Linked DNA regions of Homo sapiens. The protein of the gene in region 1 purifies or fractionates together with the protein of each later gene. This does not show direct contact. Each region holds a gene or a part of one and is shown in the gene's direction. Other genes may lie near its edges.

Region 1 (4,680 bases):
GTTAATGGGGCTGTGGGGAGTCTTCCTTGCTTTCCAGGGAGAGTCACAGCCCCCACTTCCCCTCCATGGTATCTGCTTTCTCATTATTCTCTGAGGAACCACACACATAGTCTTTCCCATCTTGAGCTCACCCTAAATCCTGCATCTCCCTATAGCTGCTTCTTCATATTGGCTTGAAACTATCTTCATGGTCACTTTCCAGCACTCCCTCTACAGCAGATGACCTTTGGTCATAAGACCCACTGAACTGATACTCAGCAAGGTCCCTGCCACTTAACAGCCAAAGCTGGCACTGCAACCTTGGCTCTTGGCCTCCCTTGGTGTCTCTCACACCACTCCCGCTCCCTCTGTTTCTCCTATCTTTAGTTCATTCTCAGGGTTATTCATTGTCTGTTCTTTCTGGGTAGGTGCTCCCTGGAGCTCTGGCCTTAGTCATCTTCTCCATTCTTTCCTCAGAGTTCCTGCAAGCTATTTTCCTCACCCATGGCTTGGTTGCCACCTAAATTTATGTTTTTTATATTCAGCTAATTTTTCCATCCTCTAGACTCATATGGCAAACTGCCCACCAGACATCTTCTTCTCTGTGGTCCACAGGACCTTCCCACTGTCCTCAACAATGCTTCCTGGTGGGTTTCTGGGGCTCCCCCTAAAAAGGCCCCTTCCCACTTGGGAGATGGGGAATCTGAGGCTAAGAGGTGGCTGTGAACCCCAGTCCAGGGCAGGGCTGGGCCATCTGTCTGTGCTCACTGTGTCAGTGGCCCTTTAGGATATGCAGTCTAAATGTCCGATGGAGTTCTGCTTGGTGATGCCCCCTATCCAGTGGCTCAGGCTTTCCTTGAAGTGGGAATCTCTTTCCCTAATCCAGAGGCTCTTTGGAGCCTGACAATTTACTTCCCCTGCTGTAGGAACCAAGTACCAGGCAATGCTGAGTGTGGATGACTGCTTTGGGATGGGCCGCTCGGCCTACAATGAAGGGGACTATTATCATACGGTGTTGTGGATGGAGCAGGTGCTAAAGCAGCTTGATGCCGGGGAGGAGGCCACCACAACCAAGTCACAGGTGCTGGACTACCTCAGCTATGCTGTCTTCCAGTTGGGTGATCTGCACCGTGCCCTGGAGCTCACCCGCCGCCTGCTCTCCCTTGGTAAGGAGATTCTAGGGGAAGGTAAGATGGGAATGGAGAGTGGCAGAGGAACTGCACTGTGCTGGCATCTGCCTGACCCCTCTCCTGGGACTGAGTCAGTTTACCCTGTCACTTGGCCAGTGACTAATGCCTTACTGACTTTAGGACCAGTCCAGCTTCTTACTAGCTCCTTACCCACCTCAATCCTGGCCTTAGGTTTGCGCAGTCGCTGATAGATACGCTCAGGCCTGTGGCACTTGTGGGCCTTTTTAATAAGGACTCTGTTATGGTGTATCTGTCACCATGCAGGACTACACAGGGTGGAACCTTTACTACATCAGGAGCAGCTCAGGAGTCAGGTTGTACTTTAGGATTGTTACAGTGACAAACAGTAGCGGTGCTATTAGAGGCCTGAGGTCTAATAGTAGGACTTCATATGGCATTGATACTTTGTGTGCCTTGTGCTGTTGGACTGAAGAAGGCCAAAAGCACTGTGCCTTTAAAACTCATCTACCTTTTTTTTTTTTTTTTTTTGAGACAGAGTCTCACTCATCCAGCCTGGAGAGCAGTGGCACGATCTCAGCTCACTGTAACCTCCGCCTCCCGGGTTGATGAGATTTTCCTGCCTCAGCCTCCCAGGTGGCTGGGATTACAGAGGCACATGCCCCATGTTGTATTTTCTTTAGTAGAGATGAGGTTTTACCATGTTGGTCAGGCTGGTCTCGAACTCGTGACCTCACGTGATCCACCCGCCTCGGCCTCCCAAAGTGCTGGGATTGCAGGTATGAGCCACCGCACCTGGCCTCTGTTGGTTTTCCAGTTACGACCAGCGTACTCTGGTTAGATGCTGTGGAAGGTAGAATGCAGCATGCAGGTGAGCTGCTGGGAGAGAAACCCTTACAGAATAATTTCTCTAAATGACCTAACAGATGTTTGTGGTTTCCTTTTCCTTCTCATTCCTTGCATTTTCTAGACCCAAGCCACGAACGAGCTGGAGGGAATCTGCGGTACTTTGAGCAGTTATTGGAGGAAGAGAGAGAAAAAACGTTAACAAATCAGACAGAAGCTGAGCTAGCAACCCCAGAAGGCATCTATGAGAGGCCTGTGGACTACCTGCCTGAGAGGGATGTTTACGAGAGCCTCTGTCGTGGGGAGGGTGTCAAACTGGTGAGATGTGTGAGGGGGCTAGGGTGCCAAAGCTGTGGACCTGGACTCTGGCTCTGGGCAGGCAGATTTGGGGAAGGTGTTCTTTATTCTGTAGGTACTTTTCTCAGTATATCCCCCAGTTTTTCATGGCATCTCCTGAGGCTGACATGTGGATATTCTCTGAGGTGTAGGAAAGGAGACTCTCTCCCCTCGTGCCCCAGGTAGAGTGTTGCTCCTCTAAGTTACCAGTGAGCTCGCCTCCTTACCCCAATATGTCCCACTTTTTGCTTCACTCACTGTTGGGAAGAAAACAATGGGTGGACGTACCTCAGGCCCCAAAAGAAGTCATGGTATAAGTGGAGAGTAAGTCTCTGTGGTAAAGACACCAGCGTGTACTAGAGCTTGGTATCGAGCCTTTGAGAGCCCTGGGATCCTAGTGCTTCCTGAGGAGGCCCAGGTGTGACAGGCTCTGAGCCTTTTCCATGCCCCTGTCTGCATGGCTTCTACTGGCTCCTCCACCAAGAAAGGTTTCTCCCCTGTCCCAGCCCTTCAGACCTACTCAAGTCTTCACGAAAAGGGTCAGGAATTACTTTCTGCCATGGGACTTGAGGATGTGAGGTGATTTTGGGAGAGAAGAAAAATTGCATGATTTGTGGGGTGTTATTTCATGCCAGTTAAGCTGAAGGGGCTCTCCTCTCCTCTCCCCTCCCCCCATTCCCCCCTCTCCTCCCCTCCCCCCCTCCCCTCCCCCTCCCCTCCCCCTCCCCTCCCCCTTCTCCTCCTCTCTCCTCCCCTCCCTCCCTCCCTTCCTTTCTTCCTTCCTTTTTCTTCTCTTTTTCCTGTTTCCTCTTTTTCCTTTTCTTTTCTTTCTTTCGTCTCACCCTGTCGCCCAGGCTGGTGTGCAGTGGTATAATCATAGCTCACTGCAGCTTTGACCTCCCAGCCTTGAGCAATCCTCCTGCCTCAGTCTCCTGAGTAGCTGGGACTACAGGTATGCACCATCATGCCTGGCTAATTTTTTAGAGACAGGTCTATGTCATCTAGGCTGGTCCCAAACTCCTGGTCTCAAGCTATCCTTTGGCCCCCCAGAGTTCTCGGATTACAGGCATGAGCCACTGTGCATGCCCACCTGCTGGGACTTTTGTTTTCTTCTGTGGTGTGGTGGGAGGGAGCAGCTGCTGGCCATGAGGTGAGTCCAGTGTCTGCAGACAGCCAGACTGGGACCGAGGATTAGGACTCACTCAGCTCAGGGCCTGTTACTCTGTGCTTTCCAGACACCCCGTAGACAGAAGAGGCTTTTCTGTAGGTACCACCATGGCAACAGGGCCCCACAGCTGCTCATTGCCCCCTTCAAAGAGGAGGACGAGTGGGACAGCCCGCACATCGTCAGGTACTACGATGTCATGTCTGATGAGGAAATCGAGAGGATCAAGGAGATCGCAAAACCTAAAGTAGGTGTCACTGTAGGTCCTTCTCGGGTCACTGAAGGGGGAAGGTCCTTTTTCTCATCCCTAGCACTATGGGTGGTTGGTTTGCCCATCTAGCCACCCTTTATCCATATCTAGCATGGGCCTACCGTGGGGATACAGAGATGCTTCAGACTCAGCCTGACCTTGTGAGTTCATGGTCCAGTGGAAGAAGAACAGGGTAACCAATGTGGACAGCCAAGTGCTATCATAGAAGGTCACGCTGGGAACAGGGCAGGTCTACACTGGTGTGTCAGTTCACCTGGTTGGGAGACTGGTGCGTGGGTGAGTTTTTTGGAAATGTTCCATAGGATGCTATGAAGCTGGGTCCTGTGGAGCTCCTGATTAGGACTGTAAATGAGGTGAATGACTTAGAGGAGAATGTATATCTTTATAATATTGGGTCTTCTCATCCAAGGGCATGACAGGTCTCTCCATATCTTTTTAAGTTTTCTTCATATAAGCCTTGAACATTTCTTAAGTTTATTCCTTGGTAGTTTCTTTGTTACTGTTAATTTACTTTATTTCTTCATTATTATTTTTAACTGGTTACATTATTTTATTAGTTTACTATTATATGCCAAACTATTGATTTTACAAATACATTTCATAGTAAGAGCTAATGTTTACTGAATTCTTAACTGTGGCAGGAACTTCTAAGTGCTTAACATATATATTAAGTGTTATGTCACAGTTATGAACAGCTGCTCATAATGATGTCACTGTCTCTGTTTTACCTATGAAAAAGCAAACTCATACAGATTGCAGCTAGTGGTTGAATTTACTTATTTCTTTTTTGGTTTTTAGCTGATTTCTCTTTGGTTGCCTGGATAGCATTAACACCTGGAAATAAGGAAAATTTTATTTTCTCCTGATACTTGTAGTTCCTTTGTTTTTATAACCTTATTGAATTGCCCAGAACTTCTAGAGCATAATTACGTAGA
Region 2 (4,259 bases), on another chromosome or scaffold:
GCTGGAGGCAGCCTGTGTGTGGGGAGATGTGCAGAAAGGGGAGCGCCCTACAAGTTCTTGTCAGTCGAAAGGCAAGTTTGGAGGCTATCACGCCTAGTGGAGAGGGAAGGCCAAATTTGCAGACGTCAGAGCCAATGGGGAAGAGAGATTTACATTGGGAACATGCCCTCCGATTCTACTATGGCGGGCGGTTAGTTCCAGAGAAGCAGCTCCTCTGTTCCCTTGCGCCCCACCCCGGTCCTTTGTTGTTCAACGCTCCCCCAGCGTTACAGGAGTAACCTTTGGGCTTCAAGAGGCCAAAACGGTGCAGGGCCTATACTGAGGTCAGACGTTATAATCAGAATCTCTCCAGTAGCATTTTTCTGATTTCTTGGTGTGAGCGCTCGAAGCTTCCTCCCGTGCGCCTTGTACAATCTGGCAACCCTGAGTACCAGACTCCCTGCCCAGGAACAAGGGGTAGGATGCCAGGATGGAGGGGGCTGTAAGAAGAGGCGACGTTGTTGGTAGAATATCAGCCCCCTATTTGGCTTCTCCAGTACTGTGTGTGGAGGGGTGCTTTGGGGTTTCAAACTTACTCCTCTTCGCCCCTTTGGCTCCGCGAGGTTTTAAGGGCAGAGCTTTCAGTCCGAAGCCTCCGCTCGGGGCCAGGTTTTGCTCTGGTCCGGGTGAGAAGTTTCTGCAGTGGATGCAACTTGTTACTGAGCGGCTTCCTATTCTGAGAACTCCTGGGTTTCATAGGTTTCCTCTCCCTCTCTTTTGGCTCAACTTAAGCCTCCCAGTTCCGTCCTGAAGCACCAGGGGAGTGAGAAAGGACTGGGAAAGCCATCCCATCACTGAGCCCCGCGCGGGCGGCTGTCCGGGTTTCCAATCGCGCTTGGAGATTGAAAAAGACAGAAGGCGCGCCGCGTGTACAGACAGTTAGTTAATGGAAATCCTGTAAATCGGTTTTAAGTGCACCCAGGACAGAGGGGGAGGAAGATGGAGGTGGTGATATCAGATGAAGGATGGAGATCCGCAGGAGCGGGGGTGAATGGGTTACGCATCCTTGCATTTCCGAAAATGGGAGTCGGTCCCCTCCCCATTGTTCTTAATGTAGAAAAATTCATTAAAGAAATCTCAGGGATAGGGAAACCCGAGCTTCATTAAAGAAATCCCAGTCCGCCCCAAGTGGCGGAGTACGCGGCTTCCCTTGGCAGGGAACCCGGCTGCGGCTGTCCCCCTCTACGCTCCCTCCCTTCTCCCCGCCCCCCAGCGGGGCACTGCTACTACGGCGATCGCCACCTCACGCCGAAGGAATGCTCGAAGTATGCACACGTTCCCAAAAGTAGACCTCCTTCACCGCCGGAGGAGCATACATCACCCCGTGGCAGCCGTCCACCTTCTCAGGCGTTTCGTAACCGAGTAAACTGAGAGCTGGGAACAGCCCTCTATTAAGTAGCCCGCGGCGCGGAGTCTCTTTCCACTTGGCTAAGGCGAACCGCCCCAGACGCGTCCGCGCGCCGGCAGCTGCAGGCTCAGGCCATCTCCAGTCTTCCTGCCGCGCCCGCCTCTCCTCCTGGGATTCTCCTCCTCCTCCTGGACTTCCCCGCAGCTGCCCACGCCTCGGCGGCCGCCAGGTGCTCCTGGAGTGCAGCGCCTATCGCCGGGGCGTGTGGGGGCCACACCGAGCACCAGCTTCTCCGACGCCGGGAAGCCGCTGTCGCCGCCGCTACCTCTCCCTGTTGCCGCCGCCTCAGGTCAGCCTGGTTTCTGTCCCCTTTCCCCTACCCCCATCATTCCCAGAGACAACTCGGGAAACGGCGTCTAGCTTGCACCTTGCCCGGAGCGGTGAAGAATCCTGGGCGAGGACAGTTTGGACTTGTAATAGTGTAGGTGGGCTAGAGCGTTGCCTTGTATACTGGGATTTGGTGATTCTTTGGGGTTTTTGAGGGAGAGGGGAATGTTGCTTTTCTTAAGAGCTGAGCAAGGTTTTGTGCACGCAAAGCATCCCGTTCAGTGTTTCCGTTTCTAGAGGAGTTTCATCTGTAGATGCTGTCGATTTCAATGGAGGGCGCGCCGGGTTCTGGGGCAGCAGGGCCCTGGTTATCTCGCGGCTGTGGCTTTGTCGGGGAGGGCAGGCGTGCGGCGGGGGCGCTGGGAAGGTATTTTGGTGACGCACGGTGCGGAATTCTTTGGAGGGCCCGCTGAGTGCTCTGCAGCTCGTCGAGGCTGCACGGGTGTGTGTGGCATCTCGTAACAGATTCCTAGTGGAGTGTTCTGGCTCCTTCCTCCCCTACCTTTCAGAGCATCCGAGATGGTGGGTTAGGCAGCACTAGGGTACTCATTCTTGGCGGACTTTTCCCAGCTCCGGGAGAAAGTCCCCTCTCCGACTCCCTCCCGGTGCATTGGTGGAGGCCCTATTCGGGGTCTGTGAGATCTCCGCGGCGGTTTCCCACTCAGATCCTAGACTTGTGGGGATCAGAAAGCGTGGGTCGCCGGACTCGTTCAGCGAGCGGAACAGGTACCCCCAAGCGGGCGACCTCGGGAGCCCTTCAGTGACCAGTTCAGGGCTCCCTGGGACTCTGGGCCAGGGAGACTCTCGATCCGGACTCTGTAGTCTTCTAGTGAATGCTGGGGAAGGATAGGGCAGGAAAGGAAATAAACGCTAAGCTCTCCTTTGGCTAATGCCAAGGTCGTGGTGGGTGGGAGAGGAGGTAGGCGACGCGCACGCGGTGTGTGTGTGTGTGTGTGATTTTCTTTTTAACTGGACGCGGGAGTTAAGGAATTGGGTTCTTCCAGCAGGGAATTGGGAGGGGGCGAGTTGGCAGAAGGGGACGAGTCCACTTAGCCCCCACTCCCACCCCAGTGGACTCATTTTTATTCATGAGGGTGAAGTGAGGGAGTCCTCGCTGCCACGTAGGGGCGGCCGCTTTCAGATATTTATGTCTGAGAATGCTCAATGAAGTGTTGCTAAGCATTCAAATGAATGTTTTGGCTAAAAAGGAGAGAAAGCATTTTCTTTTTTAAAACATATATTGACGGGATGCTTGGCTGGCTGGCGTTCCGATATCCCGGCGCGAGATGATTCATTCTTGCAGCTAAGTCGGGAAAGCGACAGGTGGCGATCGAGACCCAGCAAAAGTGTTACCACTCAGGTTTTCGTTGAGTTCAGCTGTTAAAAAAAAATCTGCGCACAGCTTTTCGGTGGGTCGATTGTTCGCCTTTAACTTCTCGCGAGCACGACTGCCAACTGAGTTGGAAATTATTATACCAAAGTTAAGGCAAGATGATTGGAACAATGGGCCAGTCTCACCTCTTGCTTTTCACTGATGTAGAAGAGGGTTAGAAATGTCAAACAGTTGTTAATTAGGAAGAAAGAAATTGCTAGACCCCTTAGATACTTAGGGCAGTGCCAAAATTTTAATCTTGGCTTCATAAAAAGGAGCTCCAGGCAATTTGGCACGCCTGCTCATCAGACATTTAAAATGCAATTTACACACAGGCTGAGGAAAGCTGCCCTCATGCTTTGTGCCAATAATTTGGAAAGTCATCGTTGGAGATTGTCAGTTTCTTTTCTCAAAGAGGCCTCGACCTTTGGCTCATTTTTGCATTCCGACGCAGGACAGTCTCCTATCCCCCTCCATTTTTCCTGAGGCCTAGGCTGTTGGCTTACAATAAATTATGTACTTCAGAGTCAACTCTTTTTATGTTTTGCCACTGGCAACTTCCCAGTTCAGTTCCTTGCTAGTAGCTTTTGTCTTTGGGTTGAACCCTAGACTATTTTAGGAGATTCCATTCTGTAGACATGGGTTAAGTACCTACTGTGTGCTGGGAAACCACAAAGATGAATAAGATTCTTTGTCTTTAAGGAATTCATAATGTAATTACAAAATTAGAAAAAATCGGAACAGAACATATTCTCCTCTGGGGTATGTATACTAATAATCTTCCAGCTTAAATAAACAGTTAAATACAAAGATTATTATTGATAATTTTTATTTAAAAACACGTTGGAAAAACAGACAAGGGTGTCTTGCTTCTTCCATTTTGCTGCCTTATTTGTTATTATGTATTTTGGAGTTGTTTTTCCCTCATCTCAGGTAAAGGATTTATCAGATGTGAAAACAACACAGTTAGCAGGAGGGTCAGGTTTCAGCTGGGCCTTACATATTTCTGTATAATCCATTTCAGATCTTAAAGAGCTGCATATTTGAAAGCAGAACAAAATGAAGAAAAAAGAGAATTAAAAAGGTTTATTATACTTTTCCAAATTACCCTGA
Region 3 (3,797 bases), on another chromosome or scaffold:
CTCCCGGCCTCCCCACTCCTTGTGTAATGTGTCAGTAGCCCAGACCCCCATGTAGTCGGTGTTATTGGGGCTTTTGCACCAAAAGAACTGAATGTTTTGTTTTTTGGGTGGCCTTGACTATATATCAAGACATCAGCCACCAACACAATTGTCTAAAATTTAAGACAATCCTGACTAACAAGGATGTTAAAATACACATTAATGTACTTACATTCCAGGATTACTTAGAGCTAATCCTGCAGGGTTGAATCTCTCTAGAAGCCCTGCTCCCTGAGCTTAGAGTGTCTTAGCACCTGATACCAGTCCGTTTAGACAGGTGTTTGGAGGAACGAAGAATAGAAATGGACAAAAGATCAAAACGGGTCCATAGCTATTACTCAGAAGAGCTGGGCAAGGTGGGGCCAACACCTCTTAGCTTTTCTACTTCACTCTGCCTCCCAGGAAAAAGAAGACAAAGCTCACCTTCAGGCGGAGGTGCAGCACCTGCGAGAGGACAACCTGAGGCTACAGGAGGAGTCCCAGAACGCCTCGGACAAGCTGAAGAAGTTCACAGAATGGGTCTTCAACACCATAGACATGAGCTAGGGAAGGCTGAGGAGGACAGGAGAAGGGCCCAGACACTCCCTCCAGTGAGTGTCCTGCAGCCCTTATTCCCTCCATAGAAAGCATCCTCAGAGCACCTTCCCTGGCTTCCTACTCTGCCCCCTTTCGGGGAGTGCACAACACAATAGTTGCAGATCAACAATCATCACCTGCCTTTTGTAGAAAAGAAAAACAAAAAAAGTAAATAAAAATTTTAAACAGTAAAATAAAAGTTTAACTGCTAAAATGTGAATGTCTTTATTTTTTTGCACAATATCTTTATCTGTTATGTATTTAAGAAGAAACTGGGCCTTGGACCAGGGCGCCCCCTGGCCCATCCGCCTCTATTCCCATCAGCTTTCTTATCAACTTCAGGTAACCCAAGCTTTCCCTTGTTATTCTAACAAATATCATTATTCCTAGAAAAAGAATGTTTTTATAACTTGTTTGGGGAGTAGAGAGGGATATTTCCTTACCTTCTTCCCTAAAATGCCTGGAGAGGGAGTTGCTTTGAGAAAATGCCTACCTCCCTTGAATGACTCGTGCATGAGCTAGTGCTGTCTGTACCTGTCCTCCAGAGATCAGCAGGACCGGAGTTAAATATTTAACAGCAAGTCTGTAAACCAGAGCAGCTCTGACAGTGCCTGCAGGCCACACCCCTTCTCAGTCCTGCATTGTGAGGTCATTTCCTGCTTCTCCCTTTCCCCAGGAAGATGGTCCCACTTGTGCTGCAAGACTCTTTTTTGTTTGGCTTAATTGAGCCCCACTAAATTGGAATCAATCTCTCTTACAGCTTCCTGGCTCCAAACATTAATTGATTTCAGAATTCCCCCAAACTAAAACCTTATCTGTCTGCATTTTGAATGCATTTTGGTCAAAAGTATACGTTTTAAAGATTTTTAAAGATAAAAATGTGGCACAACTGGTTTTTTTAGCTTGCTGAAAATGACCATATCTCTAAATTAATCTTTCTCTCCAGAGCAAGACTTCACCAGTATTTGTAACTAGGAGAAGCTAACAGTGAATGTTTAATTGTGAATTTTAATCATTGCTTGTTAGGAATAATGACTGTGATACTAGAATGGGCTTTTGAAACCTGCATGTCCCAGTGTGAAATTTCAGCACGGCATTTTCTGCATCCTTTCATGGCCATCCAAAGGATTCCGCTGCAGAAATTATTGATGTGCTATTTTTGCTGTCTTGTGATGCAGGCTGCTTTGGGCCCCTGGGTCACTCTTCCAAGGCTGCTGTAGAGCACAGAGACATGGGGCTGGCCAGTGTTGACTGACCTGAGGAGACCCCTTTGTTTGTTGCCTTCATAACTGTCACTAAACCGACCCCTCTGCCCTTTCAGTGGCAACTCTGGTCTAAGGGAACATTCAGCACTCTAGCGGCATCTGATTGGAAGTTCCCTCACCCAAGTAATCTCAATTCCTTCCTCTCTCCATCCCTGAAAGAAACAGGATGGATTTTCCTCTCTTCTCCCTGCTACATTCACTACCAGATTTTTATGCTACAGTTTCATTCTTGATTGTGATTTCTCCATGGAATTTTTTTTTTCTGGTGACATTTCTATCATGGAAATAGGAAGATTTCGGAGTGCTTTGTGAAGATTTCAATTGTCTGTCTCTTTCTCTCTTTGACTTGTATGAAGGAGATTGTACATTGCCTGATATCTCTTTGTAAATGAGAAATATTGCTAACATCCAAGCATTCTGAAGTCTTGCTTATCCTTCTGAGTTTAGTTCTCATTTTGTTTTACATTTTGTTTGGGGACTTGGGGCAAGCTATTTATTAGAGTTTTGCAACAGAGTTCTTGTTTGAAGCCTCTAAAGACTACCTGTAAAATTCAAAGAATAAAATTCATTTTAAACGCTCTTTTAAAACACTTTGGTATTATTGCTTGAGGTTTGCTTATTTGAAAGACCACCCAATAACTCATTGACCCTCCTTGCATCCGAATTTTTTCATCAAGCTTTGTTAACACTAATGATGATTCTTGAAAATTTCTGTCCTTCTCAGAATGTTAATAAACTTTTTTACTCTGTCCACATGTCGATAGAGAATTACTATTTTGCCTTCTCTGCTTATGATTTAATATTTGCAGAGCACTTCATAATTAGCTTCCCCTTCATTATCCACGCATGGATTTTTCATAACATTGTTATTCTCTGAGACCAGCACATTTTTGGGCTGCATCTCCCAGCTCTCAATGTCAGATGTTGTGTGCCCAGGGAATACAAATGCCTGTTAATATTAGGCTGTGCAAAATATAATTAGAAAAGTTAATCTACTGAAAAAAAAATCAGTGCATTCCAAAGTCAAACCGAACCAATTTTTTTTTAATCTACCACGTCACTGTTCCTCTCCAGCGGCGCAGCTAATTGAGTGCTGACAGTAGAGTTTCTTCCTTTTATTTGGTTCAACAGTTCTACAGATTCCAGAGTTCTTGGACTAGCATAAGAATGGATGCCACAAAATATTCCAATTAACAAGCTAAAAAGGTCTGTTTAGACCATGATTCCTACATGGTTCGGAGGGCTTATACGTTATTTCTGTAGGGCTTGGCACATGGGTTGGGAGCCCCTGGGAGAAGGTGCTGTTGGGCCTGCATTGATGGAAGATCTTCATCCATGAGCTGACTGGGAAGGCCAGTTGCTTGCGCTCCAGATCTGGTGCCGGTGATAAGCTGGGTTAGGTTACTAACTCTTTAGGTGGGGATAAGAACGATAGTCCAAGGGCAAAGAAAACAGGCCCAGCAAACTTACACTGTTTGCCTCTAGTTAAATGTAAAATGATGATCTGAACCCAGATTTCAGTCTCACAGTACGATGTTTCAGTAACTGTGAGGTGCTGTTTTCCCACAATAAACAAAGTGGATATTAAAGTGCAAGATGGCACACATGGGTCAGAAACCCAGTGAAGACTGGCCGGGTGTGAGGGCTCACACCTGTAATCCTAACATTTTGGGAGGCCAAGTCAGGAGGATTACCTGAGCCCAAGAGTTCAAGACTAGTCTGGGCAACATAGTGAGACCTCATCTCTGCAAAAAATAAAATTAGCTGAGCATGGTGGCACATGCCTGTAGTCCCAGCTGCCTGAGGTGGGAGGATAGATTGAGCCCAGGAGGTCGAGGCTGCGGCGAGCTGGGATTGCCCTACTGCACTCCAGCATAGGCGACAGAGACCCTGTCTCAAAAAAAAAAAAAAAAAAAA
Region 4 (4,680 bases), on another chromosome or scaffold:
TCATTTTGCAAAGACTCTCTGTATTAAAATCTAGATTTGCATATTTTTAAGGTAGTAAGAAACAGTAAATCCATTGCTAACTTTCAAGCATCACATTATTGACTTTTAAAAATAATTTTCTCTTCTTTTTTCCCTGAAGATAAGTCCCATAGACTCAGCATGGTCTAAAATGTGTAAAACTACCTTGTCAAGTACTGTTATTATCTCTATCATGGGTTTTCTTGTTTGCAGAAATTTTTTAGGTTAAATTCTATCCTGCATGCAAATTTTTCTAAAAGGAGTTTTTTATTCTAGTTCTAAAAAAGGGTGAGTGCCCTTCTCAGCATATATTCCCAGCATTCTTAGGGTAAATTATTTTTGACTTGTGTCCCTATGTGACATTCCTAATAAAAAAATTTCTGAATTTCAAGAGTTTCAAGTGACATAGTTTCAGACTAAGTTTCTAAATAACTAACATGATCTAAAATTTAGCAGTTCTCAAGCCACTTTTACAGTATTGTCTCTTCGATCCTCATGAATACATTAGAACTCTACAAATTGAGAAATATTTATTTTTTCTCATCAAGTTAACAAATTTATTCCTTAAACGTGTGTTGAATCGATACTATAGGGCAGGTCTTTCATTAAATGCTGGAAATGAGATGAACAAAATATAGTCCCTGACTTCCTGAATTTCAGGATGTAGAAGAAAACAAAGAATTACACTCACCATGTCAATTGCTGAAATAAGCCTCACACAGAGGGTGTCAGAAGGGATAGGACCACAGAGGGAGGGCACCTAACTTGTTAAAGGTAATTTGGAGGGGGAGAAGTGAAGGCTCTCAAGGTACATGTATCTCACCAGACATTATGAAGAAGTTGGCCAGATAGAAGGGGAAAACATATATTCCAGTCTCTATGTGCCATCATACAATGTCTTCCTTTCTTACTGTCTTTTACTGTTATTCTATATTCCTAATAGGCATTTATGAAATATCCCACCAAAAATGGTTTCTCAGTTTTAATTAACTCTTTTCCCTACTTTATCCTTAGTGAGGGAAAAAATTGTCTGAATTCTTTGTCCCTCAAGGAGTTCCTTCCTTTTCAGACCTTTCCTTTCACTAAATAGAAGTTTAATTTCTTCTTAAACTCTTCGATGTTCATACTTTGCCTCATATGGTGCTCTGTGTAGATACTTCAGTAGCTTTTAATTAATAATTCTCTGGTACTAGAAGTTTGATCTTTCAGCAAGTAGTTGTTACTACCCTGGGTTCTTCTAAGAACTCCACATTGCGCCGTTAATATGTAGACTTATTTTAAATTCTCCTTCCTATTCTTAACATTAAATATTCTCAATTAATGGTAACTTAAGAATATCAAGGCACAAGATTTGCAATAAACAATGCATTTGATAGGTTTTACCTATCATTTAGTGTGCTTTTCACAAGCACTGACATTGACAAGCATTTTAGTAGTTGCATGGTCTCCTTCAGCCTCTGTGAGGCAATAAAACACAGGAATGTGCTCTCAACCTTCAAAAGGAAAGCTCAGACAAATAGTATCACTAAACTGCAGTCTACATCAGCTTTCCAACCTGTACTTTGTATCATCCTCAATTCATTAAGGTGTGGAGAAAAAAAACAATTCTCCTTTCCATGTTTGTCACAGTTTAAAATTATATTGTTTGTGCAGAACATTAATAATGATAGTTTAATAGTGCATGAATATAATTTATAAACTCAAAAATATACATATGTTGGGTGTATATGCTCAAAATTATCCTACAGGCAGGAAGACATGATCCAAACAGTTTGATAATTACTGATCTAATCATAAGCATCTTAAAGATAATTTACAAGTTATATAAAAGGGTCTTTTAAAATCCCTGTTAATGTTCTTTAAAAGTCTCTGCAAGGCAGTCTTACACAATAACAGGTCACTTCCTCGGGACACAACTGCCTGCTCCTCAGCTCTATGACAATTAGGCTCTGATGGCTGGTAGAAATTTCTTTTATCTCAGTGGAGAGCTGGAAACAAAGAGCTAAAATAACTAGAAGCTAAGAATAAGTCTACAGGACCCCTGATTGTAGCTCTTACATCCAGGCTCTATAAGTAAATCCAGACTTCTTGCTTCCTTTGCAAAATGTAATGTTTTTAGTGATGATAATAAACATGTTTTTTTAAAAAACCTTTTATTTTCATAAACAAATCATGTTCATTTTAGTCAGCTCAGCCTCTTCAATTTAATTCAAGAACATTTTCCAAGAGCCAATAATTCTTTAAAAATAAAAAAAGCCAATGTTTTTGTTATGAAACTACCAGTGATGTTTTAAATGAAAACAATATTAAATTGTTTCTGTCATTTTCATAAGTTGAAATTATATTTTAACTGAAAAGATATCATTAAAGTAATTTATTAACATTATATGGCTTTATCAGTATTTGTAATGAATTGAGCACATCTCGGGGACAATAATAAATGCTTTGTACCTGTTTTCTGTCTCGTTTCCCACTACAGATTCCCAAACAACAACCCATTAGAACATTGGAACATTAGAAGAATGTTAGAACAACCCATTAGAACATTGGGAGACTATGTACACTTATTTTTATATTCTCCTTCCTATTCTTAACATTAAATACTCTCAATTAATGTTATGTTGAGAATATCAAGGCACATTTGTGGAATTTAGAGTTTTAGACAAAAGATAGTTAACATTTTTTGTTGTTTTTAGAAACCTGTAGGAAATTAGCTAATATGTCTATTTTGTCTTAATGTAGTAGAGGAAAAATATTACTCTTGTAATTTGGGATATACTGTGGGAAAATAAGTCGTGATTTAGTGATGGAGAAAGTGTAGAACTTCAGTTTAGGTGTGTATTACTCCCACAACATAGCCCAGAAGTTCCTCTTTATATCTAATTGCTAACATCATTATTGCATACTATCTACATTTTTTTCCTTTGTCATTTTTCTCCTAAAAAAAGAAAATCCCAATCTCCTTAAAAGACACTGGTCATTTGAGGTTACTCTTTAATCAAGATATGGTTGAACTTGGCAGGACCCAAAATGTTCTAAAATGCTGGAATTGCTGGTTCATTTGCAAAATTACAAAACAATTCTATTTCCTACCAGCAAATTAGCACTGTGAGAGATTTCCAAGTCCTAGTAGTGAGCTATAGGCTTGCATTATATCATGCCTAAGAAGATGTATATCATCATCATCAGTACTTAAGCCTTTAGTAAGCTATCAAAATATGGCACTATGCTACATGAAAATCAACTTGGTTCCTCTCTTCTGATAAGTAACAGAATGCTTTATATTTAAAATGATTGCTTTCTATTAAACTGTAATACATGAAGTTGTTTTGAAACATGACATTTGTATAGTAACTTTGAAATCTTTGATTTAAAATTGCAGCTGATGTTCTGAGCGAAGAAGCAATACTGAAATGGTATAAGGAAGCACATGTTGCTAAAGGCAAAAGTGTTTTTCTTGACCAGATGAAGAAATTTGTTGAGTGGTTACAAAATGCAGAAGAAGGTATGATTCTGTTTACAAACATTGATGACCTTTAAACACTGTCTCATTATATGTCAAAATATTTACCTCTTCCACAGATTTTACTTGATTTTCTAAAACTAAAATTCTAGAGTTATCTTTCGTATCAAACATTTTGCCAACATCTTAGCTTTCCTTTCTGAAATCACGGCAATAAAAATCTCTACATGTAAAAACAAAGAAAGAAATGAAATGCTTAAATTATCCACTCTGATGGAGGACAATAAGGAAGAAATGATTAGTAGATGTGAAAGGAGAAAAATACATTTAGCTTAATCACGCATTATGGAATTCTATAGATTTTTATGACACCTTTACCAATTAACTGGCAATTTTAAATAATGGAAATATAAAGTGGAAGGATAATAATGAGTAAGAGTGAATTCAGGCCAGGTGTGGTGGCTCACACCTGTAATCCCAGCACTTTGGGAAGCAGAGGTGGGTGGATCACCTGAGGTCAGGAGTTTGAGAGCAGGCTGGCCAACATAGTGAAACCCTGTCTCTATTAAAAACACAAAAAAATTAGCCAGGTATGGTGGCTCACGCCTGTAGTCCCAGGTACTCGGGAGGGTGAGGCAGGAGAACCACTTGAACCAGGAGGCAGAGGTTGCAGTGAGCCAAGATTGCGCCACTGCACGCCAGCCTGGATGACAGAGCAAGACTCCATCTCGATAAATAAATAAATAAAGTGAATTCAATTAAGAATAAAAAGTTCAGGCCAGGCACGGTGGCTCACGCCTGTAATCCCAGCACTTTGGGAGGCCAAGGCGGGCAGATCATGAGGTCGGGAGATCGAGACCATCTTGCCTAACACAGTGAAACCGTGTCTCTACTAAAAATATAAAAAATTAGCCGGGCATGGTGGTGGGCACCTGTAGTCACAGCTACTCGGGAGGCTGAGGCAGGAGAATGGCATGAACACAGGAGGCGGAGGTTGCAGTGAGCCAAGATCACAGCACTGCACTCCAGGCTGGGCAACAGAGTGAGACTCCATCTCAAAAAAAAAAAAAAAAAAGAATAAAAAGTTTATCTTAGGTGATCCAAAGAAGAAAAGTTATATTGTTTAATTTTATATATATTCAAATTTTTATATAATTTATATGTATAAATTTAATATATATAAAATGTATTCATTTATA
Region 5 (3,500 bases), on another chromosome or scaffold:
GTTGCCTCAGCTAGTCTTGAACTCCCAGTCTTGACCTCAAGTGATCCTTCTGCCTCAGCCTTCTGAGTAGCTGGAAGCACAACTGTGAGCCACCACACCTGGCTTTTTTTTTTTTTTATTTCTAATAAAAAAATAGAGTTTCTTGTTTCACTGGACAAAATATGCATATATAGGAAGGAAAGACTTTTGGACTTGAGATTGCGCTGAAGAAGAAAAATGGAAAAATTAGGCATTTTAGTCTCTCAGTGTGTTATTTTTGTAGCTTATACAGATATGTCTTTTTAAAGTGTCTTTAAAAAGCTTTATTGAGATAAAGATAAATGAGATAAATTCACCTACCATGAAATCCCCTTGAGTGCAGAATTTTGTGGTTTATAATATGTTCACAGAATCACACAAACAAGACAGGTATCTAGATACTTTCAGACCATTTTCATCAGTCCACAAGAAATCCCATACCCATTAGCAGTCATCCTTATTGCCTTTTCCCCTAGTCCCTGGCAATAACTAGCCTACTTTCTGTCTCTGAGTTTAGCTCTTCTGGAGGTTTCACAGAATGAAATCTTACTACATATGGTCTTTTGTGATTGACTTATTTCACGTGGCACAGTGTTTTCAAGGTTTATCCATGCTGTAGCGTATATCAGCACTTCATTCTTTTTTAATGCTGAGTAATCTTTTGAATGGATATACCATATTTTATCAGTTCCTCTGTTGATAGGCACGTGAGTTTTTTTTTCCAATTTTCGGCTATTATGAATAATGCTGCTATGAACATTTGTGTACAAATTTTAGTGTGGATGTATATTTTCATTTCCCTTGGGTATATACCTAAGGAATAGACTATCTGGGTCATATGATAATTGTTTAAGACTACAGGCACGTGCCACCACACCTGGCAAATATTTAAAAATTTTTTGTAGATAAGGGGTCTCGCTATGTTGCCCAGGCTGATCTTGAACTCCTGGCCTCAAGAGATCCTCTCACCTCAGCCTCCCAGAAAGTGTTGGGATTACAGATGTGAGCCACTGCAGCTATAAAAGAGGCTCATGCCTCTTTTTACATTGTGTGTGTGTGTGTGTGTGTGTGTGTGTGTGTGTGTGTGACAGGGTTTCACTCTGTCGCCCAGGCTGGAGTACAGTGGTAGGATCACAGCTCACTGCAGCCTGGACCTCCCTGGGCTCAGTTGATCCTCCCACCTGAGCCTCCTGAGCAGGTAGGACTACAGGCACGGTTAATTTTTGTATTTTCTGTAGAGATGGAGTTTTGCCGTGTTGCCCAGGCTGGTCTGGAACTCCTGGGCTCAAGTGGTCCACCAGCCTCTGCCTCCCAAAGTGCTAGGATTACTGGTGTGAGCCACCACACCCGGTTTACTCTTTTGATAATGTCCTCTGATGCCAAAAAAGTTTTTAATTTTGAGGAAGTCTAGCTTATCTGTTTTTTCTTTGTTGCTCATGATTTTGGTTTCATGTCTAAGAAGCCATTGCCAAATCTAAGGTCATGAAGATTTAGCCCTATGATTTACCCCTATGTTTTCTTCTAAGAGTTGTATGCTTTTAGCCCTTATATTTAGGTTGTTGATCCATTTTGTTTTAATTTTTGTGTGTGGTGTGAGGTGTGTGTGGTATGTGGTCCAAATTTATTATTTTGTATATAGATACAAAAAGTTATCCCAGCACTATATATTGAAAAGAGTGTCCTTTCCTTTATTGATGGTCTTCACATCTTTTTTGAGAATCACTTGAACATATATAAGGTTTTATTTCTGGACTCTTAAGTTCTGTTCTCTTGATGTGTATTTCTTTCTGTCTTTATGCCAGTACTACACTGTTTCATTACTGTAGCTTGGTAATAGGTTTTGAAATTAAGTGTAAGTCCTTTAACTGTGTTCTTTTTCAAGACTGGCTATTTTGGGTCCCTTATATTTCCAAATGGATTTTAGGATCAGCTTATCAATTTCTGTAAAAAAGACAGCTGGGATTTTTACAATGATCATGTTTTACCTTTTTTTTTTTTTTTTTTTGGAGACAGAGTCTCGCCATCGCCCAGGCTGGAGTGCAGTGGTGTGATCTTGGCTCACTGTAACCTCTGCCTCCTGGGTTCAAGTGATCCTCCTGCCTCAGCCTCCCAAGTAGTTGGGATTACAGATGTGCACCACTATGCCCAGCTAATTTTGTATTTTTAGTAGAGACATGGTTTCACCGTGTTGGCCAGGCTGGTCTTGAACTCCTGACCTCAAGTGATCCACCCGCCTCAACCTCCCAAAGTGCTGGAATTACAGGCTTGAGCCACTGCTCCAGCCAACAGGTCTTAACTCTTACGCATCTTATGGTTCTCATATGTATAATTGCATAGTAATATCCATTCCAAAGAATTGTTAAATAAAAGAGGATGTAGGTATATATTTAGAACAATGCCTTGCCTGTGGTAGGGATTTGATATTTGTTTTTTATCTTCTTCTGCTAATTAATTCCAGTTAAAAGTGAGCCACAAAACAAAAAACAGACAAACCCAATCAAAAACCAAGAAAAACAAAAACTCCAAAACCACAGACCAAAAAAAAAAAAAAAAAAAACCACAAAGAAAAAACCACAAACAGAAACCCCAAGCCTCTTCCTGTCCCCATCACCTTTCTACGACCCAAGAAATCCCTGTGAGCGCTTGAGGAACCACTAAAGAAGACAAGTCTCTCATACCACATAGTTGTATTGCAAATGCATGTGAAATCAAGGTTGCTATATAGAATATTTGACAGTGAATTTTAAATATTAAAAATAATAAAAGTATAATTGAAAGCTCTTTATTTTTACTCTATGATTCTTGTTTTGTGTGCTGTTTTTTCACTACTTTTTTTCCTGAAAGCAGAAACAATATTTTTTCATTAAATTTCATGGTTACAATCTTTCTTCCTTTAAATTATTGCTATTTTAAAAACTGTTAGCGGGAAGCCTGATGTTTGAACTTAAACTTGGTAGAACATTTATTTTGGTGTCTCTTCAGCAGCTGGGTGCATTGTTATTTTCTAAGAAGAGAAACTAGAGACATAGTATGATACAAATATGATGCTTGGAACATCTCATGTTTCTTGTATATTCACACTGTATTATCTATAGTCTTCCAAAAACAAACACTAACCAGTTTTCTATAGGCATGTTTTAGCAAAATATAAGTATCAATGCTAATTTGATATTCATTTTATGATGATTGACATTAGAGGACAATAATCTTAGTAATTTTCATCTTTACCAAAGTGATACTCTTTATGCAATTCTGTGAGTGCAAAGAATGTTGATATCAAATTTGTCCTAACATTTTCTGAACTACGTCCATAGTATGTTGAAACAATATCATGGTGATTTTTGACTTCCATTATGGCATAGAAATGCCAAGTACGTACCAGGTAAGGGGGGGAAGCTACATACAATAATAATGCATTCTCTTATTTAACATTCGCAGTTAACTTTTTTTTTTGAGACGGAGTCTCTGTCGCCCAGGCTGGA
Region 6 (4,680 bases), on another chromosome or scaffold:
AGGGCTGTGAACGTGGGCTGGGGCCAGACCACGTCGGTGGTGTACACAGCTGCCACTGTACATGGCTGGTCATTATTCCTTTAGCAGCCCCACCAGTCCCCAAACAAACCTAGGAGCTAAATAAAACAGTGTGTGCAGTGTGCAAATGGAGCTTTATGTCCTCCAGCCTGCTTCCTGCTTCTCTATTCCTCCTGCCCGGGAGGAGTAGAGAATTCTGGAGCCACCTTAGTGGGCAATGGGGGAGCTCCTGATGGTTCAGGAGCAGGAAATTTATGAGCAGAGTGGGGTCCCAGGCCACAGGGAGATGTCTATCCACAAGGGATGGTGGCCAAGGGTTGAATGGAAAGAGGCAGGCAGGGGGAGAGGGGCAGAGGGTGTGGGTATTCCCAGGGCCTTGAGAGTGGACATGGCCCCTTCTCCTCAGCCTTCCATTAGCAAGGATGTCACTGCTGCTCTTGCCTGATGACAGCCAGATCTGTTCACAGTTAGTCTGCCTCTCCTGCCATCATTCATCTCATGCCTCCATCCTGCGTCACCAATGCATTAGCCTAGTGCCAACACGCAAAGTCCCCCTTGCCCAGGCTCCCTGACCCAATGCCTGCTTCCACATCTAGCTTCCTCCCTCTCCTCTGCTTCCAGCATGCTCTGACCCCATTTCTCACCCATCATAGGTCATCTTGTCTTGGATCTGGCCCAGGCCCGGTCCACGTTGGTGCTGCCCACAGGCATTATCGCCGCGGCTGGCACCATGACGGTGACCCTGCACAGCAGCCGGGAGCTGCCCTCAAGGCCTGACGGGGTGCTGCATGTGGCCCTGCCCACTGTGCTCACCCCGCTGGCCCCGCCAGGCCCGCCGGGGCCCCCCAGGCCTCCGGGGCTCTGTGACGACAGGTTGGGCCTATGGTGATTCTCTTCGTCCCTCCCTCGGCTTCTCTGGGTCTAGTGCGGGTGAGGGGGCACTGGCAGGGTACCCAGGGATGGGAAGGGTGAGGAAGGGCTGGGGCCAGTCAGCCGGAGGGTTTAGGGGCCTTCACAGTGGCCCAGTGACCCTCCTCATGCTCCCTTCCAGCCCCACCAGCTGCTTCGGGGTGGGCAGCCTTCAGGAGGAAGGGCTGGCCTGGGAGGAGCTGGCTGCCCCTCGGGACGTGTTCTCAGGCCCTGCCCGCTGCCCTGCCCCATATACCTTCTCCTTCGAGATGCTGGTGACTGGGCCATGCCTGCTTGCAGGTGGGTGCATCTGGCTGGCCTGCCCTCTTTTCAGATGCCCACTCCACCCAGTGTAGTGACTGGAAGGGAAATAAGGCTCAGGGATAGGAGGGACACAGGACAAAAAGACAGGGACCCCAGCCTCCGGAACATCTGGGTTAGTGGTGGGAGCATCCCCTGGTCACCTCTACCCAACACACACACCCCAATTTTATCAAGGTAATTTATTTATATCTCATCCCACCCAGCAGTGGGAAGAGAGATACTTACAATGGGACTAGTACCTGTGATGAAGTAGGTTTTCCTTACACAGAAGGTGGGGGGTGAATGCTAAATCAGCACCTGGCTGATGCATGACTCTTCGACCAGCCAGAAACCCTGCTGGAATCTACTTCCCAGCCCATGAAAGCAGGCACATCCTCCCTCGTCCATCTGACCCCATATAGATCAGACTCTGAGAGCTGACTGAATCAGCCATGACCCCTGCCAACATTTGCTGTCCCTGGGAAGGTGTTATGGCTACATCTCCCCTTCCTGCCTCTATGTCCCTCAGGCCTGGAGAGCCCCTCTCATGCTCTGCGGGCAGATGCCCCCCCTCATGCCAGCTCTGCAGCCACCATCTGTGTCACACTGGCAGAGGGCCACCACTGTGACCGGGCCTTGGAGATCCTGCTGCACCCCAGTGGTGAGAGACTGGGACACACCGTGGGCCGGCTCTGACCTGCTTCTACATGAATGGGGGAAGCATTTCTTAAGTGCAGGTTTCTGGGCCCCAGCCAGATGGACTGAGTCATCTGTGAGGGCAGAGCCTGTGGTGCAGGAAGGCTGGACCTGCAGGCTCCTCCTGGACAGTGAAACTGGGCACTTGGGGTCCAGAGGCAGGGCCTTCCTTGACAGAATTGTGTCCTCTCCTCTCAGAGCCCCATCAGCCACACCTGATGCTGGAGGGCGGCAGCCTGAGCTCAGCAGAATATGAGGCCCGGGTGAGGGCCCGCCGAGATTTTCAGAGGCTACAGCGAAGGGACAGTGATGGGGACCGGCAGGTACCGCCATAGGAGCCTGGCCTGGCCCCTGGCCTTGGCTGCATTTGTGCACAAGGAGCAGGCAAGCAGGCTTACATTGGAATGGGTGCGGGGAGGCCTCTTTTCTCGGTAAGATCTCTCCACAGCTGCCACCAACCATCACAGAGGACAGATGAGTATTGTCATTGGAGGGCCGATGTGAATCTCTCTGGGGTGTGTCTCAGAGGATGGAGGCTAGGTCTGATATAAACAGAAGACAGCCACCTGCCTTTGCTCCTGCCTTTATTCGAATTACTACAAAAAGATGTCCCCTCTGGGTGGATCAGACAGAAAAAGGCCCCAGAGCCAGTCCCACTGCCCACCCTCAACAAAGTAGCACTAAGCCTTGCCCAGGCTGACTTGGGACTCCCCCGCTCAGGTGTGGTTCCTGCAGCGACGCTTCCACAAGGACATCCTGCTGAACCCCGTGCTGGCGCTGAGCTTCTGCCCAGACCTGAGCTCCAAGCCCGGACACCTGGGGACAGCTACTCGGGAGCTACTCTTCCTTTTGGATAGCAGCAGCGTGGCACACAAGGCCCGTGGGGGTGTGGTGTGGGCAGGCCTGGGGGTTGGGTGGGGCAGTGGGTCTGAGGAGGGCTGGGGGCAGCCTCTTGAAGCCAGGAGTTACCTTGTTGCTTCAAACACCATCTTCCAAAGAGGAAGCAGATGGCAACTCCTCAGGGGATTCCCTTAGACAGCAGCCCTGCTCCAACCGCCAAACAGACACTGTCACGCTCTCTTGCTCATATTCACGCACACACATCTCTCCAGGATTCCAAGAGCCTCTCACACATAGACTCGCACTCAGTCACAGGGAGTCACTCCAATCACAGGGACACTCAAGTTTCATGTGTACCTCCAGAGTCCCACACACAGCCATGTGTACCTCCAGAGTCCCACACACAGCCATGTGTACCTCCAGAGTCCCACACACAGCCATGTGTACCTCCAGAGTCCCACACACAGCCATGTGTACCTCCAGAGTCCCACACACAGCCATGTACACCTCCAGAGTCCCACACACAGTCATGTGTACTTCCAGAGTCCCACACAGTCAGGTATACCTCCAGAGTCCCACACACAGTCATGTACACCTCCAGAGTCCCACACACAGTCATGTATACCTCCAGAGTCCCACACAGTCATGTATACCTCCAGAGTCCCACACACAGTCATGTGTACCTCCAGAGTCCCACACAGTCTCTCACACACACTTGGGGGCTCACTGGCACACTTTCCCTCACACCCAGGGCCTCTCCCAGGTTACCACAGCCTCTCACTTGAATCACAGCCTGGATAACGCAGTGATCTGGCTTCCCTTGCTCTGTATCAGGGCCCATGGGGCCGGCCTCACGCCGCCCTCCCTGGCCCTCCACAGGATGCCATTGTTTTGGCTGTGAAGTCCCTCCCGCCCCAGACGCTTATCAACCTGGCCGTGTTTGGGACGTTGGTGCAGCCACTCTTCCCAGAGAGCCGGCCTTGCAGTGATGTGAGTGTGGTCCAGGGATCTGGGGGCCTTACAGAGAGGTTTCAGCCCAGTGCGTCCCAGCCTGTGCCTTCTCGCTCCAGGATGCTGTGCAGCTGATCTGCGAGAGCATTGAGACCCTGCAGGTTCCGAGTGGGCCCCCAGACGTGCTGGCTGCTCTGGACTGGGCCGTGGGGCAGCCCCAGCACAGGGCCTACCCTCGGCAGCTGTTCCTGCTCACTGCTGCCTCACCCATGGCCGCCACTACCCACCGAACCCTGGAGCTCATGAGGTGGCACAGGGGGACAGCCAGGTATGGGATGGGCAGAACCAGATGCGTAAGACTGAGCCCCCACAAGGGGCTCCTGAAGATCACAGCTGCTTCCTTTCCTTCATCAGATGCTTCTCCTTTGGGCTGGGGCCCACCTGCCACCAGCTGCTCCAGGGTTTATCTGCCCTCAGCAGAGGCCAGGCCTACTTCCTGAGGCCTGGGCAGAGGCTGCAGCCCATGGTGAGCTTGAGCCTGGGCCCTGTTCCCTACACCTGGAAGTTTTTCTCCCAAGTTACACATCAAGTCTGAAACAGAACTCAGGCAGGCCATGGGGGCTCCTGGCGCCCTCACCAGGCCTTCTCCCCACTCCAATCAGGGGAAGAGCTGTTGGTGCTGTGAAGGCCAAAGGTGTCAGGACACTGTCTCTGACCACCCTCTGAATCCCATTTAGTCCTGGAACGGAGCCTCGTCCTCACAGTCTTGCCCCATCCATGTGGCAAAGCTCAGGCCAGGAGACAGACCAAATCCTGAGGGCTGAGCACTCAGCCCCCTGCTTGCTCCTACCCTCATTCCTTCTCCTGACCCCAGCCTGGCCCTGTGCCCCATCAGCTTAGGGGCTGGGCAGATGGCATCAGGGGAAGGGCAGCCTTCCTGCTCTGTCTGGCCGTATGACACCT
Region 7 (4,680 bases), on another chromosome or scaffold:
AAGGACACCCGGAGCTGGAGACTAAAAATATCTCACTCCAGGATGGCGTTTGGGGTGGGGGTGGAAGAGACACTCACCCCTCACCTGTGGGAGGAGAGAGCAGCCCGATGGATAGAGGATAAAGGGTCCAGGCCTTGGTAGGAACCCCCTTGACCCCCATAGCGGGCTGGGCTTAGAGCCTGGCCCCCATCGGGTAGGGATGATGGACAGGAAGCGGGTCAGACCTCATGGGCCCTTCACCGACTCACCCTCCGCCCACTTGGTGGAGGTGCTTCCCCAGGCCAGCAAGTAGACCAAGAACTCGGAGATCAGTTACGGGTGCTGAGGGTCTGGTGTGGTGTGGGGTACACACATGGATACCTGCCATCTGGAATGAAAAGTCGTGTAAAGGAGGTGCCAGAGAATGATGCCGGGGGTGGAGGGTCAGGAGAAGCCCCACTAAGGGCAAGGACATGGGGGGGTCAGGAGAAGCCCCACTAAGGGCAAGGATGGAACTCAAGCTCCCTGCTTCTGTTGCTAGGCTTAGCCCAGGTGTGTGATGTCATGGATGGTACAAATAGCTCAGGGGGTTGAATGCATTCTGCTGATGCATGTGTTTCATTATGTTCTGTTCCAACCCTGTTGAATCTCCCTGCGGTATAGGGGTTCCCCCATTTTAAACATGGAGAAAGTGTGGATCCCAGTGGAGATGGGATTTGAACCCAGGTCTGTCCAAGCCCAGGGTCTGTGTTTTGATTGTATCAGACCACCTTCTGACTATATGCCAGCCCCCTTGCTGGAATTTGTTTCTCCCAGGCAAGCAAATTCTCCTTTCTACTGTCTATTAATATTAAAAGAGTGCACTCCCCATACTGACTTTTTTCAGTTCTCTAGGCTTGTCCTGACTTCCCCATTTCTACTACTAGTAGTAACAGTGATAACAGTATCGTATCTTCAATTTTTTAATTTTAGTTTTTAGAGCCAAGGTCTTGCTCTGTCACCCAGGCTGGAGTACAGTGATGTGATCACAGCTCATTGTAGCCTTCACCTCCCGGGCTCAAGCAGCTCTCCTGCCTCAGCCTCCCAAAGTGCTGGGATGACAGCTGTCAGCCACTGTGCCCAGTCCATACCTTCTATGTACGGAGTGCTTACAGAGTGCCAGGAACCGCCCCCTAAGAGCCTTGCACATATGTGTGTGTTGAATCCTCACAGTCCTGTGAGGTAGGCATGTGCTTTGTGGTCCCCAGGTGTAGATGAGGAAATGGAGGCACAGAGAGGTTCAGTCACTTGCCCGTGGCCACACAGCTAGAAGTGGCAGGGCTTACATTTGATTCTGGCCCCAGAGTCCTCCCTCCTAATTACGCTGATAGAAACTGTGATTCCCCTTATCATTATGCTCATTTTAGGATAAAACCTGAAGGGATGAGGACGGAGGGCTGTGGGTGGGGTAGGGTGCAGGAGTATGGAGAGACAGCAGAGGGTCTGAGAGGGTTTGGAAAGAAAACTGAGTCCAGAGGCCCCCAGGATGCTTGGACAATTGGAGTCTGAAAAGGAGAGAAAGTAGAGACGGCCCAGGCCAGCGCGCTGGCTCACATCTGTAATCACCCAGCACTTTGGGAGGTGGAGGCTGGAGGATGGCGTGAGTCCAGGAGTTTCAGACCAGCCTGGGCAACAAAGCAAAACCCCGTTTCTACAAATAATAGAGGGCCTGCAGGTGGTGTGGAGGAGAGGGTCCCCTCTACAAAGCTGTGTCAGGACCCCAGAAAAGATGGGGAGAGATGGAAGGAATTAGAGAAGGAAAAGAGGTGGGGAGTGGGTGGGAGTTGAGAACACAGAGAGGGAAGGTGAAGGTGAGTAGGAGAGTCCTGGGGCCAGGGAGCCAAGAGGAAGGGCTGCCCTTTGGGGTGGACAGGCAGAGGGACTGGAAGCCTAAATCTGGAAGGCTAGGGGGTGATCCGCACAAGGATGGATGAGTGGGCGCACAGCTCCATTCACCTGCGGGGAGACCCAGCGCCGCGGCCGTGTCCTCAGCCCCGTCCTCCTCTTCACAGGGTCTCCCGTCTCCCACCCGCCGGAGATGGAGGCGAACCCAGCGGGCAGCGGCGCCGGGGGTGGCGGGAGCAGCGGCATCGGGGGCGAGGACGGGGTGCACTTCCAGAGCTACCCCTTCGACTTCCTGGAATTCCTCAACCACCAGCGCTTCGAGCCCATGGAACTGTATGGGGAACACGCCAAGGCGGTGGCGGCCCTGCCCTGCGCCCCCGGCCCCCCGCCGCAGCCCCCGCCGCAGCCCCCTCCCCCGCAGTATGACTACCCGCCCCAGTCCACCTTCAAGCCCAAGGCGGAGGTGCCCTCCTCGTCCTCGTCCTCGTCCTCCTCCTCCTCCTCTTCGTCCTCCTCGTCGTCATCTTCGTCCTCTTCCTCTTCCCAAGCCAAGAAGCCCGATCCGCCCCTGCCGCCCGCCTTCGGGGCGCCCCCTCCTCCCCTCTTTGACGCTGCTTTCCCCACTCCGCAGTGGGGCATCGTGGACCTCTCGGGGCACCAGCACTTGTTTGGGAACCTGAAGCGAGGAGGGCCCGCGTCCGGGCCGGGGGTGACGCCTGGGCTGGGCGCTCCCGCGGGGGCCCCAGGGCCGCTTCCTGCCCCCTCGCAGACCCCGCCAGGACCCCCCGCGGCGGCGGCCTGCGACCCCACCAAGGACGACAAGGGCTACTTCCGGAGACTGAAGTACCTGATGGAGCGGCGCTTCCCCTGCGGCGTGTGCCAGAAGTCCTTCAAGCAGTCCTCGCACCTGGTCCAGCACATGCTGGTGCACTCGGGGGAGAGGCCCTACGAATGCGGCGTCTGCGGCCGCACCTACAACCACGTGTCCAGCCTCATCCGCCACCGCCGCTGCCACAAGGACGTGCCACCGGCCGCGGGGGGCCCGCCCCAGCCCGGCCCCCACCTCCCGCCGCTGGGCCTCCCAGCACCCGCTGCCAGCGCCGCCACCGCCGCCGCCCCCTCCACGGTGTCCTCGGGCCCTCCAGCCACGCCCGTGGCGCCTGCCCCCTCCGCAGACGGGAGCGCCGCCCCTGCTGGTGTTGGGGTGCCCCCTCCTGCCACCGGGGGTGGCGATGGCCCGTTCGCCTGCCCACTCTGCTGGAAGGTTTTCAAGAAGCCCAGTCACCTCCACCAGCACCAGATCATCCACACGGGCGAGAAGCCCTTCTCCTGCTCCGTGTGCAGCAAAAGCTTCAACCGCAGGGAGAGTCTGAAGCGCCACGTGAAGACGCACTCGGCCGACCTCCTGCGCCTGCCCTGCGGCATCTGCGGGAAGGCCTTCCGCGACGCCTCCTACCTCCTCAAGCACCAGGCGGCCCACGCGGGGGCGGGCGCCGGGGGGCCTCGGCCCGTGTACCCCTGCGACCTGTGCGGCAAGTCCTACTCGGCTCCGCAGAGCCTGCTCCGCCACAAGGCCGCCCACGCCCCGCCCGCTGCCGCTGCGGAGGCGCCCAAGGACGGGGCGGCCTCGGCCCCGCAGCCCCCGCCCACCTTCCCCCCGGGCCCGTACCTCCTGCCCCCCGACCCTCCCACCACAGACAGCGAGAAGGCGGCGGCGGCCGCGGCGGCGGTGGTGTACGGCGCTGTGCCCGTCCCGCTCCTGGGCGCCCACCCGCTGCTGCTCGGCGGCGCGGGGACCAGCGGGGCGGGAGGCTCGGGCGCCAGCGTCCCAGGAAAGACGTTCTGCTGCGGCATCTGCGGGCGCGGCTTCGGGCGCCGCGAGACCCTGAAGCGCCATGAGCGCATCCACACGGGCGAGAAGCCCCACCAGTGCCCCGTGTGTGGGAAGCGCTTCCGCGAATCCTTCCACTTGAGCAAGCATCACGTGGTGCACACGCGCGAGCGGCCCTACAAGTGCGAGCTCTGCGGCAAGGTCTTCGGCTACCCGCAGAGCCTCACCCGCCACCGCCAGGTGCACCGGCTCCAGCTGCCCTGCGCCCTGGCCGGGGCAGCCGGCCTCCCCTCCACCCAAGGCACACCGGGGGCCTGTGGGCCCGGGGCCTCGGGCACGTCTGCAGGGCCCACCGATGGGCTGAGCTACGCCTGCTCGGACTGCGGCGAGCACTTCCCGGATCTCTTTCACGTCATGAGTCACAAGGAGGTCCACATGGCAGAGAAGCCATACGGCTGCGACGCCTGCGGCAAGACCTTCGGCTTCATCGAGAACCTCATGTGGCACAAGCTGGTCCACCAGGCCGCCCCCGAGCGCCTGCTCCCGCCCGCACCCGGCGGCCTGCAGCCCCCGGACGGCTCCAGCGGCACGGATGCGGCCAGCGTGCTGGACAACGGGCTGGCGGGGGAGGTGGGGGCGGCCGTGGCGGCACTGGCAGGGGTGTCTGGGGGTGAGGACGCAGGCGGGGCGGCGGTGGCAGGTGCTGGCGGGGGTGCCAGTTCCGGCCCCGAGCGCTTCAGCTGTGCCACGTGCGGCCAGAGTTTCAAGCACTTCCTGGGCCTCGTGACTCACAAGTACGTGCACCTGGTGCGACGGACCCTGGGCTGCGGCCTCTGCGGCCAGAGCTTCGCGGGCGCCTACGACTTGCTCCTACACCGCCGCAGCCATCGGCAGAAGCGGGGTTTCCGCTGCCCGGTGTGCGGGAAGCGCTTCTGGGAGGCGGCCCTGCTGATGCGCCACCAGCGCTGCCACACGGAACAGCGGCC

What was found.
Region 2: the proteins of P4HA2 (region 1) and COL12A1 purify together in Homo sapiens (co-immunoprecipitation; 2 studies listed by BioGRID and IntAct, with this or other methods). This does not show direct contact.
Region 3: the proteins of P4HA2 (region 1) and SIPA1L1 purify together in Homo sapiens (co-immunoprecipitation; one large-scale study listed by IntAct). This does not show direct contact.
Region 4: the proteins of P4HA2 (region 1) and BZW2 fractionate together in Homo sapiens (co-fractionation; one large-scale study listed by BioGRID). This does not show direct contact.
Region 5: the proteins of P4HA2 (region 1) and TTC28 purify together in Homo sapiens (affinity purification with mass spectrometry; 2 studies listed by BioGRID and IntAct, with this or other methods). This does not show direct contact.
Region 6: the proteins of P4HA2 (region 1) and VWA5B2 purify together in Homo sapiens (co-immunoprecipitation; one large-scale study listed by IntAct). This does not show direct contact.
Region 7: the proteins of P4HA2 (region 1) and ZNF865 purify together in Homo sapiens (affinity purification with mass spectrometry; one large-scale study listed by BioGRID and IntAct). This does not show direct contact.

The regions. Positions count from the first base shown.
Region 1 is NC_000005.10:132,206,749-132,211,428, reverse strand, and holds part of P4HA2 (prolyl 4-hydroxylase subunit alpha-2 isoform 2 precursor), read left to right. Parts: intron 1-905; coding exon 906-1,145; intron 1,146-2,097; coding exon 2,098-2,291; intron 2,292-3,544; coding exon 3,545-3,721; intron 3,722-4,680. UniProt on the Homo sapiens protein: Catalyzes the post-translational formation of 4-hydroxyproline in -Xaa-Pro-Gly- sequences in collagens and other proteins.
Region 2 is NC_000006.12:75,203,254-75,207,512, reverse strand, and holds the start of COL12A1 (collagen alpha-1(XII) chain long), read left to right. Parts: upstream 1-1,459; 5' UTR 1,460-1,736; intron 1,737-2,173; exon of another isoform or gene 2,174-2,500; intron 2,501-4,259. UniProt on the Homo sapiens protein: Type XII collagen interacts with type I collagen-containing fibrils, the COL1 domain could be associated with the surface of the fibrils, and the COL2 and NC3 domains may be localized in the perifibrillar matrix.
Region 3 is NC_000014.9:71,738,577-71,742,373, forward strand, and holds the end of SIPA1L1 (signal-induced proliferation-associated 1-like protein 1), read left to right. Parts: intron 1-441; coding exon 442-585; 3' UTR 586-2,633; downstream 2,634-3,797.
Region 4 is NC_000007.14:16,701,147-16,705,826, forward strand, and holds part of BZW2 (eIF5-mimic protein 1), read left to right. Parts: intron 1-3,400; coding exon 3,401-3,523; intron 3,524-4,680. UniProt on the Homo sapiens protein: Translation initiation regulator which represses non-AUG initiated translation and repeat-associated non-AUG (RAN) initiated translation by acting as a competitive inhibitor of eukaryotic translation initiation factor 5 (EIF5) function.
Region 5 is NC_000022.11:28,673,341-28,676,840, reverse strand, and holds part of TTC28 (tetratricopeptide repeat protein 28), read left to right. Parts: intron 1-3,500. UniProt on the Homo sapiens protein: During mitosis, may be involved in the condensation of spindle midzone microtubules, leading to the formation of midbody.
Region 6 is NC_000003.12:184,232,507-184,237,186, forward strand, and holds part of VWA5B2 (von Willebrand factor A domain-containing protein 5B2), read left to right. Parts: intron 1-671; coding exon 672-891; coding exon of another isoform or gene 892-903; exon of another isoform or gene 904-948; intron 949-1,069; coding exon 1,070-1,227; intron 1,228-1,759; coding exon 1,760-1,891; intron 1,892-2,124; coding exon 2,125-2,249; intron 2,250-2,646; coding exon 2,647-2,802; intron 2,803-3,645; coding exon 3,646-3,756; intron 3,757-3,836; coding exon 3,837-4,045; intron 4,046-4,131; coding exon 4,132-4,243; intron 4,244-4,680.
Region 7 is NC_000019.10:55,611,563-55,616,242, forward strand, and holds part of ZNF865 (zinc finger protein 865), read left to right. Parts: intron 1-2,030; 5' UTR 2,031-2,056; coding exon 2,057-4,680. UniProt on the Homo sapiens protein: May be involved in transcriptional regulation.